Homo sapiens: one gene and its partners. The protein of the gene in region 3 interacts with the protein of the main gene of each other region in a biochemical or structural test. Each region holds a gene or a part of one and is shown on either strand. Other genes may lie near its edges. The genes, in order: MAPK8IP3, SH3RF1 and MAP3K11.

Region 1 (3,647 bases), on a different chromosome or scaffold from region 3:
TTCACCATTCACACACAGGGCGACCACCATTCACCATTCACAGGCAGAGCGGCCACCATTCACCATTCACAGGCGGGGCGGCCACCATTCACCATTCACAGGCGGGGCGGCCACCATTCACCATTCACAGGCGGGGCGGCCACCATTCACCATTCCCAGGCGGGGCGGCCACTGTTCCCACACATTCACACGCCGGGTGACCACTGTTCATACGCATTCACACGTGGGGCAGCCATCATTCCCACACATTCACACGCTGGGCGGCCACCATTCACCATTCACCATTCACACACAGTATATCCTACTATTCACACTCGGGGCATGGGGATGCGGGGTGCCTCCCGGGGACTCACCGGCGCTTCTGTCTCTGTACAGAATCAGTATATCCCACAATTCACATGCAGGGCTGGGGTGGGCACGGGCAGGGGGCCCAGGCGGGCTCCTGGGGACTCGCCGGCTGTTCTGGGCTGACAGCTCTCCCACCCCTCCTGGGTGACACCTGACCCCAGCGGCATCATCTGCCACCCCACTCCTGAGACCACATGGAGTCAGAATCAGGCCCTTGGGCAGGACCACAGCCCTGGCAGGATGCCGGGTCCCCTGTCAGCACCCAAGTCCTGGTGCATGCCTTTTGTATGGTTCCCCTCCCCGCTTGCCGACACCCCTCCACACCGCTTCTTGCCTGAGGATCTGAAGGAAATTGGCACTGAGATCCACCTATACGTGTAGGCACCCCAGGAGGAAGCAGGTGTCACCCGGCCTCCGAGGGCTGGCTGAGCCTCTGTGCCCCTCCCTCCGCAGGACAAAATCCCCATGGCCCAGCGCCGCCGCTTCACGCGGGTGGAGATGGCCCGTGTGCTCATGGAGCGGAACCAGTACAAGGAGCGGCTGATGGAGCTGCAGGAGGCTGTGCGGTGGACTGAGATGATCAGGTGGGAGTTGCGGCCACCCCAGGAGGGGCTGCGGGATCATCCCTGACGGCAGGACTGCGGCTCCCTCCTCTGCACCTCCCTGTCTTCTGGGGGGACTGAAGTGCGCTGGGTGCTTCCTGGCGGGAGCCAGAGAGTCGCAGGTAAGGGAGGCGTGAGGGCACTAGCAGGTTGCTCCCTGTGCCCTCCCCTGCAGAGCGTCCCGAGAGCACCCATCCGTCCAGGAGAAGAAGAAGTCGACCATCTGGCAGTTGTAAGCTGGGGGCCCCTGGGGGATGTGGGCAGCAGCTGCAGGGGAAGGGGCAGGGAGGTTCCCTGGTCCTCTGCCCACCCCTCACCTCCCTGTGCCTCTGGCAGCTTCAGCCGCCTCTTCAGCTCTTCCTCCAGCCCCCCTCCGGCCAAGCGCCCCTATCCCTCGGTGAACATCCACTACAAGTCACCCACCACTGCCGGCTTCAGCCAGCGCCGCAACCATGCCATGTGCCCGATCTCGGCAGGCAGCCGGCCCCTGGAATTCTTCCCTGACGAGTGAGTGTCCCGCAGCCCCCACTTGTGGCCTGCAATGGGGTTGGGGAGGCCCTGTCCTGAGGCTCCTCCCCTCCAGGCCCTGAAGCGGGACTTTGAGGGCAGCCTCCACCTTGCTGGCCACATGCCAGGGGCCGTGACCTCTCCCTGCACACTGCCTGCCCCTCCCTGCAGCGGGGAGCTGGGCTGCTTTGGCTCCACGGTATTTGGTTCAGGATGTCCCTTGGCAGAGGCTGTGCCCACCAACAGTCAGGGGGCTGTGCTGGGCTCCACGGTGGCCTCTGCAGCAAGGAGCCGTTTCAGGCGTCTGTCCAGCAGGGAGTCGCTGGTCATGCCTGTGCCCCGGCGGCACTCCAGGTCCCGGTCTGTGGAACCCTCAGTGACTGTGGCAGCAGAGCAGCCTCTGGGTCGAGCAGGGGCCAGCTGTGGCCTCCAAGCCCAGGGGCATAGCCGGTGCCAGGAAAGCCACCCTTCCCAGCTGGGCACCCAGTGCCGGGAAAGCCACCCTTCCCAGCTGGGCACCCGGTGGCCGGGAAAAGGCGAGGATGGGCCCAGGCGGGCCTCCCTGCCGTGACCTCCCCCAGGACAAGCCTGGGGCACTGTGGGGGCCGCTCACCCTGGACAGAGACATCACCCATCATTCTTCCACTCAGCGACTGCACGTCCTCCGCCCGTCGAGAGCAGAAGCGCGAGCAGTACCGCCAGGTGCGTGAGCACGTGCGTAACGACGACGGCCGTCTGCAGGCCTGCGGCTGGAGCCTGCCCGCCAAGTACAAGCAGGTGCGGGCGGGCGCTGCGGGGACCGGGCGGGGCCCCGCAGAGGCGGGGCGGGGGTAAGGGGCGGGGCGCTGTGGGGCGGGGAGAGGGCGGGGCAGTGCTAGGGGGTGGGAGAGGACGGCGGGTGGGGCGGGGCCTGGCAGGTTCCTAGTGAGCCTCCTGGGCAGGGGTCTGGAGGGTCGGAGAAGGAGCCCCGCGGCTCCCACGCCCCCACCTGCCTCCAGTCTTGAAGTGGCTGTGCCGCCAGAAGCTGGCAGCCCTACCTGTCTCAGATTTCTGGAGGGATGGGTAGGAGCCAGGGTTCGTGCCCACGGCGCCTCCCTGCTCCCTGCAGCTGAGTCCCAACGGGGGCCAGGAGGACACGCGGATGAAGAACGTGCCGGTGCCGGTGTACTGCCGCCCTCTGGTGGAGAAGGACCCCACCATGAAGGTGAGCCCGCGAGGACCCCGCTCAGGCTGGCTGGGCGAGCGGGAGGCTGGGGAGTGCCGGTGACACCCGACCTCGGCCCTGCCCTTGCAGCTGTGGTGTGCCGCGGGCGTCAACCTGAGCGGGTGGAGGCCCAATGAGGACGACGCTGGGAATGGAGTCAAGCCAGCGCCAGGCCGCGATCCCCTGACCTGCGACCGCGAAGGAGACGGCGAGCCCAAGAGCGCCCACACGTCTCCCGAGAAGAAGAAGGTGAGCATGGCCGAGGCCACCGGGCACCCTCCCTGGCTTAGTCTCAGGACAGCTCAGCTGCAGAGCATGCTGGGAGTGAGACACAGGACAGCTGGGGACAGCACCCGGAAGCAGGGCAGCGCAGGGGCTCCTAGACTGCGGGAAGCAGTGTCTTCCCTCACCAGGACTGAGCCGCCTTCTGGGTTTTCAGTTTTCACCCCCCAGGTGGCCTGGAGTGGGCCTGCACTGGGCTGCAGGGGTCAGGCAGGCAGCAGGCACAGAGGAGCCCAGGAGCGGCAGAGCTTGCCTCCCAGTGGTGGGAGGCTTAGTTTTATGCCCAGCTTGGGCCTCTTGGAGCTCAGGGGCCTCTTCTGTGGAGGCGAAACCGTGTCTGTGAGTGCTTTAGAGTGCAGTCCTGAGTCCGCATTGTTCTGGTCCTGGGGGAGGACAGCCATGTCCCCTCAAGCTGTAGTCAAGGCTGGATCCTGACAGATTCTGGGAGCCCCATGGCCCTGTGCTGCCACCGGGTAGCCTCAAGCTCGGGCTCTGACCTTGATCCCGTGCCCTGAAACAGGCCAAGGAGCTCCCTGAAATGGACGCCACCTCCAGCCGGGTGTGGATCCTGACCAGCACCCTGACCACCAGCAAGGTGGTGATCATCGACGCCAACCAGCCGGGCACGGTGGTGGACCAGTTCACCGTCTGCAACGCGCACGTGCTGTGCATCTCCAGCATCCCCGGTGAGCAGCTGGAGTGGG
Region 2 (3,647 bases), on a different chromosome or scaffold from region 3:
GCACATGACGGGGCAAATGACAGTCAACCAGGCCCGCAATGCTGTGAGGACAGGTAAGGAGGAACCCAGGCCAGAACATATCAGGATAAAGGGCTTACCTGCCTAATAGTAGATCTTTTATGACAGATGTTGAGAAATGTAGATGTAATTTTAATAATGAACAACATTAGGCAAAGTCTACTCAGTGGCACCTTGTATCTGCTTATTTGGGCTAAGCGTGCCCTGCGTATTACTTCAAGCCTGATGGATAGATCTAAAGTCTGAAAGAAATTAGGCTGATCCTAAGAATGTCAATAGTACTTGAAATTTTGACTTCTATAGTTGAGATCATATGATCTCAAATCTCACTACTACCATCCATGTGACATTGCGTGATACTCTACTAACGGGTGTGCTGATCATTTCTGATTAACTTAAGCACAAGTCTACCTTGGACCCTATGGGATCTTAAACAGCTTTCTTAGTTCTGTAGCACTGAAAACCTTCCCAAGAGTCTTGGGTAACTAATGGGATGAGGGGTAAACTAAAGGCTTGTGAACTCTATCAGAAAAACAGAAAAAAGGAAAATGATTCATAAGAAAAGGGAATGAATAATAGGAAAAGGACTAGAGGGAGACATCGCTTGACACTGTAGAATACCATCAAGAACTGGCTCAGTGTCTCTAACACTGTGGAGAGGCTGTCTCCTAAGTAAAGGGACTTGGGTCAAAACTGAGCTTCCAGGCACTCAGTAGACTCAAGGGCTGACCTGGAAGGACAATAGATAGTGTCTGGGGATCCAGCTAAGATTAAGTGCTTTTAGGCCACCGTCCATCCCATCTTTATTGTAATAAATACAATAGCAGCCTTTCATCATGGTCTGATGCAGTGAAATGACTCATGTTTTGGTGAGCAGCATCTATTAGATAGTTGAATTTTGCTGTGTTCCCTCTTCCCATCTACTAGTTGCAGCGCACAACCAGGAACGCCCCACGGCAGCAGTGACACCCATCCAGGTACAGAATGCCGCCGGCCTCAGCCCTGCATCTGTGGGCCTGTCCCATCACTCGCTGGCCTCCCCACAACCTGCGCCTCTGATGCCAGGCTCAGCCACGCACACTGCTGCCATCAGTATCAGTCGAGCCAGTGCCCCTCTGGCCTGTGCAGCAGCTGCTCCACTGACTTCCCCAAGCATCACCAGTGCTTCTCTGGAGGCTGAGCCCAGTGGCCGGATAGTGACCGTTCTCCCTGGACTCCCCACATCTCCTGACAGTGCTTCATCAGCTTGTGGGAACAGTTCAGCAACCAAACCAGACAAGGATAGCAAAGTAAGACCATACTTACTTACTGTTTCTCTGCTTTACTTACTTCCCTGTTTTTCTTCTTATGTTGTGTCTGTCATTTTTAGCTAATGAGAGGACTCACTGTTCAACAAACCCTCAGGTGCTCCCTACGTGTGAGTCACTATGCCAGGTGCTAGGAGTAGAGTGGGGAAGAAACGCAGGCACCACCCCATCCTCTTATCTAGAGCTCATGTTTCTCTGTGTTTAAACGCCCACTACTTGCCAGACTCAGTGCTGCATGTTAGAGGGACCACAGTGAATGAGACTTAGTCACTCCTCCTTGTGCAGCTTACAGTCTCGTGGAGGAATTTCCTTTTCCCTTTAGTTACTCATTCTTTCATCATTTTGCTGTCCTCAAGTCTTCCTGCTCAGTGAGTCTTGCTTGATAAGAGTTCTGTTAAAAATATATATGTGTGAGGGGGATGAAACTGTTGATCAAAAGTGTTACTTATGGATTTATTTTATCTACAACAGTGGTCCCCAACCTTCTGGGCACCTGGGCACCATGGACCAGTTTCGTTGAAGACAGATTTTCCATGGACCCAGGGGTGGTGGCGGGGAAATGGTTTCAGAATGATTCAAGCTCATTACATTAACTGTGCACTTTATTTCTATTATTATTACAGTGTACTATATAATGAAATCATTATAGAACTCACCATAATGTAGAATTAGTGGGAGCCCTGAGTTTGTTTTCTTGCAACTAGATGGTCCCACCTGGGCATGATGGCAGACAGTGACAGATCCTCAGGCATTAGATTCTCATAAGGAGTGTGCAACCTACATCCCTCGCATGTGCAGTTCACAATAGGGTTCATGCTCCTATGAGAATCTAATGCCCCTGCTGATCTGACAGGAGGCGGAGCTCAGGCAGTAATGCAAGTGATGGGGAGCGGCTGTAAATACAGATGAAGCCTCACTCACTCACCTGCAGCTCACCTCCTGCTGTGCGGCCTGGTTCCTCACAGGCCACAGGCTAGTACTGGTCCATGGCCCAGTACATCTGACCTTAAGCAGCATGGTTCCTTGAGAGGTAAGACTTGAAATATAAGGAAACATTATTTTCTAAATCCATAGTTTTTGGGGTTTTTTTTAATGTCTCATTTGGGGCTGAATTTTAAAGAAAATATAAATGGAAAGTTATATTGGAAAGAATAACCGATGGTTGGGTTTAGAGACAGGTGATTGGAGGCAAGAGAAATTGAGAGTTGTTAAATGTAAAAAGAAAAAGAAGAGATGGTAACGGATCTGGATAATTTTATTGTCATTATTACTTTTTCCTCAATATTTTACACATTTCCCCTGAAGTTCTATACCAGTTCTGGGAAGTTTGAGGGCGATCATAGACTTTTAGCCACCTGGTTAAGTGGTAATGTATGTCGTTCTATTTAAATGGTTAAGGGAGCCTGTAAACAGCAGTTTATAAGGAAATAAACTTTATGGCCTACTAAAAAGTTAATATTTAATTGTTCGGTTAACATGAGAGTTTTTGAAAAAGATTGATATTTGTTCAGTGTTTATAATTAACTACATTAAACTTGCACTCAAGCCAACATGTTCAACTTTGTTAATATATTTATAAATAATTATTTTTATGGTTTAGATTTTAAGGCTTGATGACAATGTGTCTCAGAGCCCTTGCCACTGATAAGAACAGGGACTCTTCAGCTGGGCCCTTCCAATGTAGAATTCACTAAATCTCTAAGGCTTGAAAGGTACTTGTGATAGACAGAATAGTGACTCCCCAAGGATGTCCACCTCCTGATCCCTGGAACTTTTAAAGATGTTTCATTACATGGCCAAAAGGACCTTGCAGGTTTTATTAAATTAATAGCCTTTTGACAAGGTGGTTAGCCTGAATTATCCAGGTGGGCCCAGTGTAAACTCAAGGATGTTCTTAAAAGGGAGGCAGGAAGCTTAGGGCCAGAGAAGGAGACGTGATGGTGAAGCAGAGGTAGGAATGATAGGGAAATGAGACCACAGGTCAAGGAATACAGGAAGCCTCTAGAATCTGGAAAAGACAAGGGAACAGATTCTTCCCCAGTGGCCTCCAGAAGGAACCAGCCCTGCCACACCTTGATTTTAGGACCCGATTTTTACCACAAAGTTTGAGTTAACCTGTTACGGCACCATCTAGTACAGGTCCTTACTGGTCATCCTGTGGAGCACCCATCCCTGACAAATGACCATGGCTTCTGCCTAGGTGCGTGCCCCATTGACCAAGCAGTGCCCTAGCCCAAGACTGCCCTGTGCCATCTTCAGACAGCTGTAACTCAACTCAACCTTCCAACCGTTGTTCTTTATTTTGAGGGCCCACATAGAAAA
Region 3 (3,630 bases):
TATTTCTCCCTCCCGACATCCAACCTGCTGCTGCACTCCAGGCAGGAGGGGAAAGGCAGAGGGACAAGGCCAGGGAGGGCTTCAGAGGACCAGCCAAGGAGGCCAGACTTTCTCCTAGTGACAGTGGAGAGCCACAGCAGTTTCTAGAGCCAAGGAGGGATCTGACAAAATCAGGGCTTGTGAGAGCCCATCCTAGAGTCCCTTGTCCTTAATGAGGGGTTCCCCATCCCTGCCCAAGTGGTCTAGAATGGAGTCAGGCCAACCCTAGACTGGAAGGTAGGACACTAGTGTCTTGAAATCTAGGGCAGAGTCTGGCTGGGAAATGGTGGAGAGCAAAGGTTCTACTGCCCTTGCCTGGGGTGAGGCCGGCTCCACCTTTCACTGGCTGTACAGCTCCGCACAAGCCCTCAACCTCTCTGAGCCTGGAACCCCTGGGGCATGAGAATCAGACAACATAATGCCCCTATGCCATTCAGCTCAGGCCTGGCACAAATACATACTCTGTAAATTAGCTGTGACCTTGGGCAAGGTACTGACCCCTCTGAACCTCATTTTCCTCCTTTCTAGAATAGAGACAGGGATTTATGCCCTCAGGGCTGCCATGTACCTTAGAGTTGACTGTGTGCATCTTATAAGCTACAGCTGGAGCGGGGGTGGGTGGGCAGAAGGGGCAGGGCTGCCAAGCCAGGAAGCTGGTGGGCACAGAGCACAGGGCGCCGGTCCCAGTCAGTGGGACCTGCCATGCCCCTGGGCCTGGAGGTTGCCCCTGGCAGGCCACAGAGGCCCACTGTGACCTGGCCCCAGCCTGCCTCCACTGGGACTGCCCATCCATCTTTCGGGTCTGGGGTCGCTGGCTGCCATTGGGCTTTGCTGCCGCTTCCTCCACCTGCACTGCCCTCCCCTCCCAGTGCCCATCTTGTGAAAGGCCAGAATGTGGGTATGTGATGGGGAGGCCATGGGACCTGTGGGACCAGGGAAGATGCTAGTAGAGGGCAGAACTCAGTCCTTGTTCCAAGACCACGGAGAGGTCTTGGGCCCTCACCCGGAATATGCACCAGCCACACCCTCACCTGTGCCGCCTCTGCCCGCAGGTAACCCCCCGCGGCCTAGCCTGGAGCCCGAGGAGCCCAAGAGGCCTGTCCCCGCAGAGCGCGGTAGCAGCTCTGGGACGCCCAAGCTGATCCAGCGGGCGCTGCTGCGCGGCACCGCCCTGCTCGCCTCGCTGGGCCTTGGCCGCGACCTGCAGCCGCCGGGAGGCCCAGGACGCGAGCGCGGGGAGTCCCCGACAACACCCCCCACGCCAACGCCCGCGCCCTGCCCGACCGAGCCGCCCCCTTCCCCGCTCATCTGCTTCTCGCTCAAGACGCCCGACTCCCCGCCCACTCCTGCACCCCTGTTGCTGGACCTGGGTATCCCTGTGGGCCAGCGGTCAGCCAAGAGCCCCCGACGTGAGGAGGAGCCCCGCGGTGAGTGGCCTGAAGCCGGCCTGCTTCACATATGGGAGACGGGGGTTCCCAGGGAGGGAGGAGTGGCTGGTGGGGACATGCAAGGAGGCAAGGCCGAGACCACAGTCATCAGCTGGACCCTGAACCAGGCATTCGGGGTACTGAAGACGCATGTAGGGAGCAGAGTTCTAAGTTCAGCTATCAGGTGGTCCAGGCAGGTGGGGGCGATGCCTGCTGTGAAATAAAAGAAGTAATCGGGCCAGGCAGTGGTGCACGCCTGTGATCCCAGCACTCTGGGAGGATCACGTGAGCCTTGAAAGGTTGAGGCTGCAGTGAGCGGTGATCATGACACTGGACTCCAGCCTGGGCGACACAGCATACATGTAATCATAATCGTAGCAAACTCCTGGCTCCTTACTTGTGCCAAGTACTGTTTGCAAGGCTTTCCCGAGATGGTCTCATTTAGTCATAACAACCAGAGAACTAAGCGCTCCTGGATGCCCATTTTTAGATGAGGAAATTTAAGGCACAGAGATTAAGGGACCCACAGCTCCCACAGCTAGTAAGTGGCAGGGCCGGGATCCACATCCAGGCCAGCCTGCTGCAGAGGCCTCACTCCTAACTATTACAAAAAACAGAGGCACCACGGAGCAGGAAGGGCGGTGGAAGTTGAGTCAAGTAGGTCACTGTGCACATGGGGAAACTGAGGCCCAGAGCAGGACAGTGTCTTGGGGACCTCAGCAGTTGGGGGTTGCTTGACCCTGTGCCCCTCCTATATCCTCACAGGAGGCACTGTCTCACCCCCACCGGGGACATCACGCTCTGCTCCTGGCACCCCAGGCACCCCACGTTCACCACCCCTGGGCCTCATCAGCCGACCTCGGCCCTCGCCCCTTCGCAGCCGCATTGATCCCTGGAGCTTTGTGTCAGCTGGGCCACGGCCTTCTCCCCTGCCATCACCACAGCCTGCACCCCGCCGAGCACCCTGGACCTTGTTCCCGGACTCAGACCCCTTCTGGGACTCCCCACCTGCCAACCCCTTCCAGGGGGGCCCCCAGGACTGCAGGGCACAGACCAAAGACATGGGTGCCCAGGCCCCGTGGGTGCCGGAAGCGGGGCCTTGAGTGGGCCAGGCCACTCCCCCGAGCTCCAGCTGCCTTAGGAGGAGTCACAGCATACACTGGAACAGGAGCTGGGTCAGCCTCTGCAGCTGCCTCAGTTTCCCCAGGGACCCCACCCCCCTTTGGGGGTCAGGAACACTACACTGCACAGGAAGCCTTCACACTGGAAGGGGGACCTGCGCCCCCACATCTGAAACCTGTAGGTCCCCCCAGCTCACCTGCCCTACTGGGGCCCAACACTGTACCCAGCTGGTTGGGAGGACCAGAGCCTGTCTCAGGGAATTGCCTGCTGGGGTGATGCAGGGAGGAGGGGAGGTGCAGGGAAGAGGGGCCGGCCTCAGCTGTCACCAGCACTTTTGACCAAGTCCTGCTACTGCGGCCCCTGCCCTAGGGCTTAGAGCATGGACCTCCTGCCCTGGGGGTCATCTGGGGCCAGGGCTCTCTGGATGCCTTCCTGCTGCCCCAGCCAGGGTTGGAGTCTTAGCCTCGGGATCCAGTGAAGCCAGAAGCCAAATAAACTCAAAAGCTGTCTCCCCACATGTAGCCTGTCACCTTTCTTGGAGGTAACCAGGTGACCCAACCTATCATACAACCCTGGTGTCCTGATGCCCCAACAATAGGCAGTTGGATGCCTTGTACTGCATGCCTCTCCTGGGACCAAATCCACCAGCCTTGGTCAGTCATTCAAGGCTCTTCTCGGCCAGGTGCAGTGGCTCACTCCTGTCATCACAGCAGTTTGGGAGGCCGAGGCCGGCGGATCACATGAGGTCAGGAGTTCAACCTGGCCACATGGTGAAACCCCATCTCTACTAAAAATACAAAAATTAGCCAGGTGTGGTGGTGCATGCCTGTAGTCCCAGCTACTCTGGAGGCTGAGGCAGGAGAATTGCTTGAACCTGGAAGGTGGAGGTTGCAGTGAGCCAAAATCACGCCACTGCACTCCAGCCTGGGCAACAGAGCAAGACTCCGTCTCAAAAAAAAAAAAAACAAAAAACCATAGGCCGGGCATGGTGGCTCACGCCTGTAATCCCAGCACTTTGGGAGGCCGAGACGGACAGATCACA

The links.
Region 1: the proteins of MAP3K11 (region 3) and MAPK8IP3 form a complex in vitro, tested with the Homo sapiens proteins (one study listed by BioGRID).
Region 2: the proteins of MAP3K11 (region 3) and SH3RF1 form a complex in vitro, tested with the Homo sapiens proteins (one study listed by BioGRID).

The regions. Positions count from the first base shown.
Region 1 is NC_000016.10:1,761,550-1,765,196, forward strand, and holds part of MAPK8IP3 (C-Jun-amino-terminal kinase-interacting protein 3), read left to right. Parts: intron 1-801; coding exon 802-932; intron 933-1,125; coding exon 1,126-1,182; intron 1,183-1,286; coding exon 1,287-1,457; intron 1,458-2,107; coding exon 2,108-2,234; intron 2,235-2,565; coding exon 2,566-2,661; intron 2,662-2,751; coding exon 2,752-2,910; intron 2,911-3,463; coding exon 3,464-3,629; intron 3,630-3,647.
Region 2 is NC_000004.12:169,113,929-169,117,575, reverse strand, and holds part of SH3RF1 (E3 ubiquitin-protein ligase SH3RF1), read left to right. Parts: coding exon 1-53; intron 54-945; coding exon 946-1,307; intron 1,308-3,647. UniProt on the Homo sapiens protein: Has E3 ubiquitin-protein ligase activity. In the absence of an external substrate, it can catalyze self-ubiquitination. Stimulates ubiquitination of potassium channel KCNJ1, enhancing it's dynamin-dependent and clathrin-independent endocytosis.
Region 3 is NC_000011.10:65,597,230-65,600,859, reverse strand, and holds the end of MAP3K11 (mitogen-activated protein kinase kinase kinase 11), read left to right. Parts: intron 1-1,091; coding exon 1,092-1,466; intron 1,467-2,231; coding exon 2,232-2,569; 3' UTR 2,570-3,103; downstream 3,104-3,630. UniProt on the Homo sapiens protein: Activates the JUN N-terminal pathway. Required for serum-stimulated cell proliferation and for mitogen and cytokine activation of MAPK14 (p38), MAPK3 (ERK) and MAPK8 (JNK1) through phosphorylation and activation of MAP2K4/MKK4 and MAP2K7/MKK7.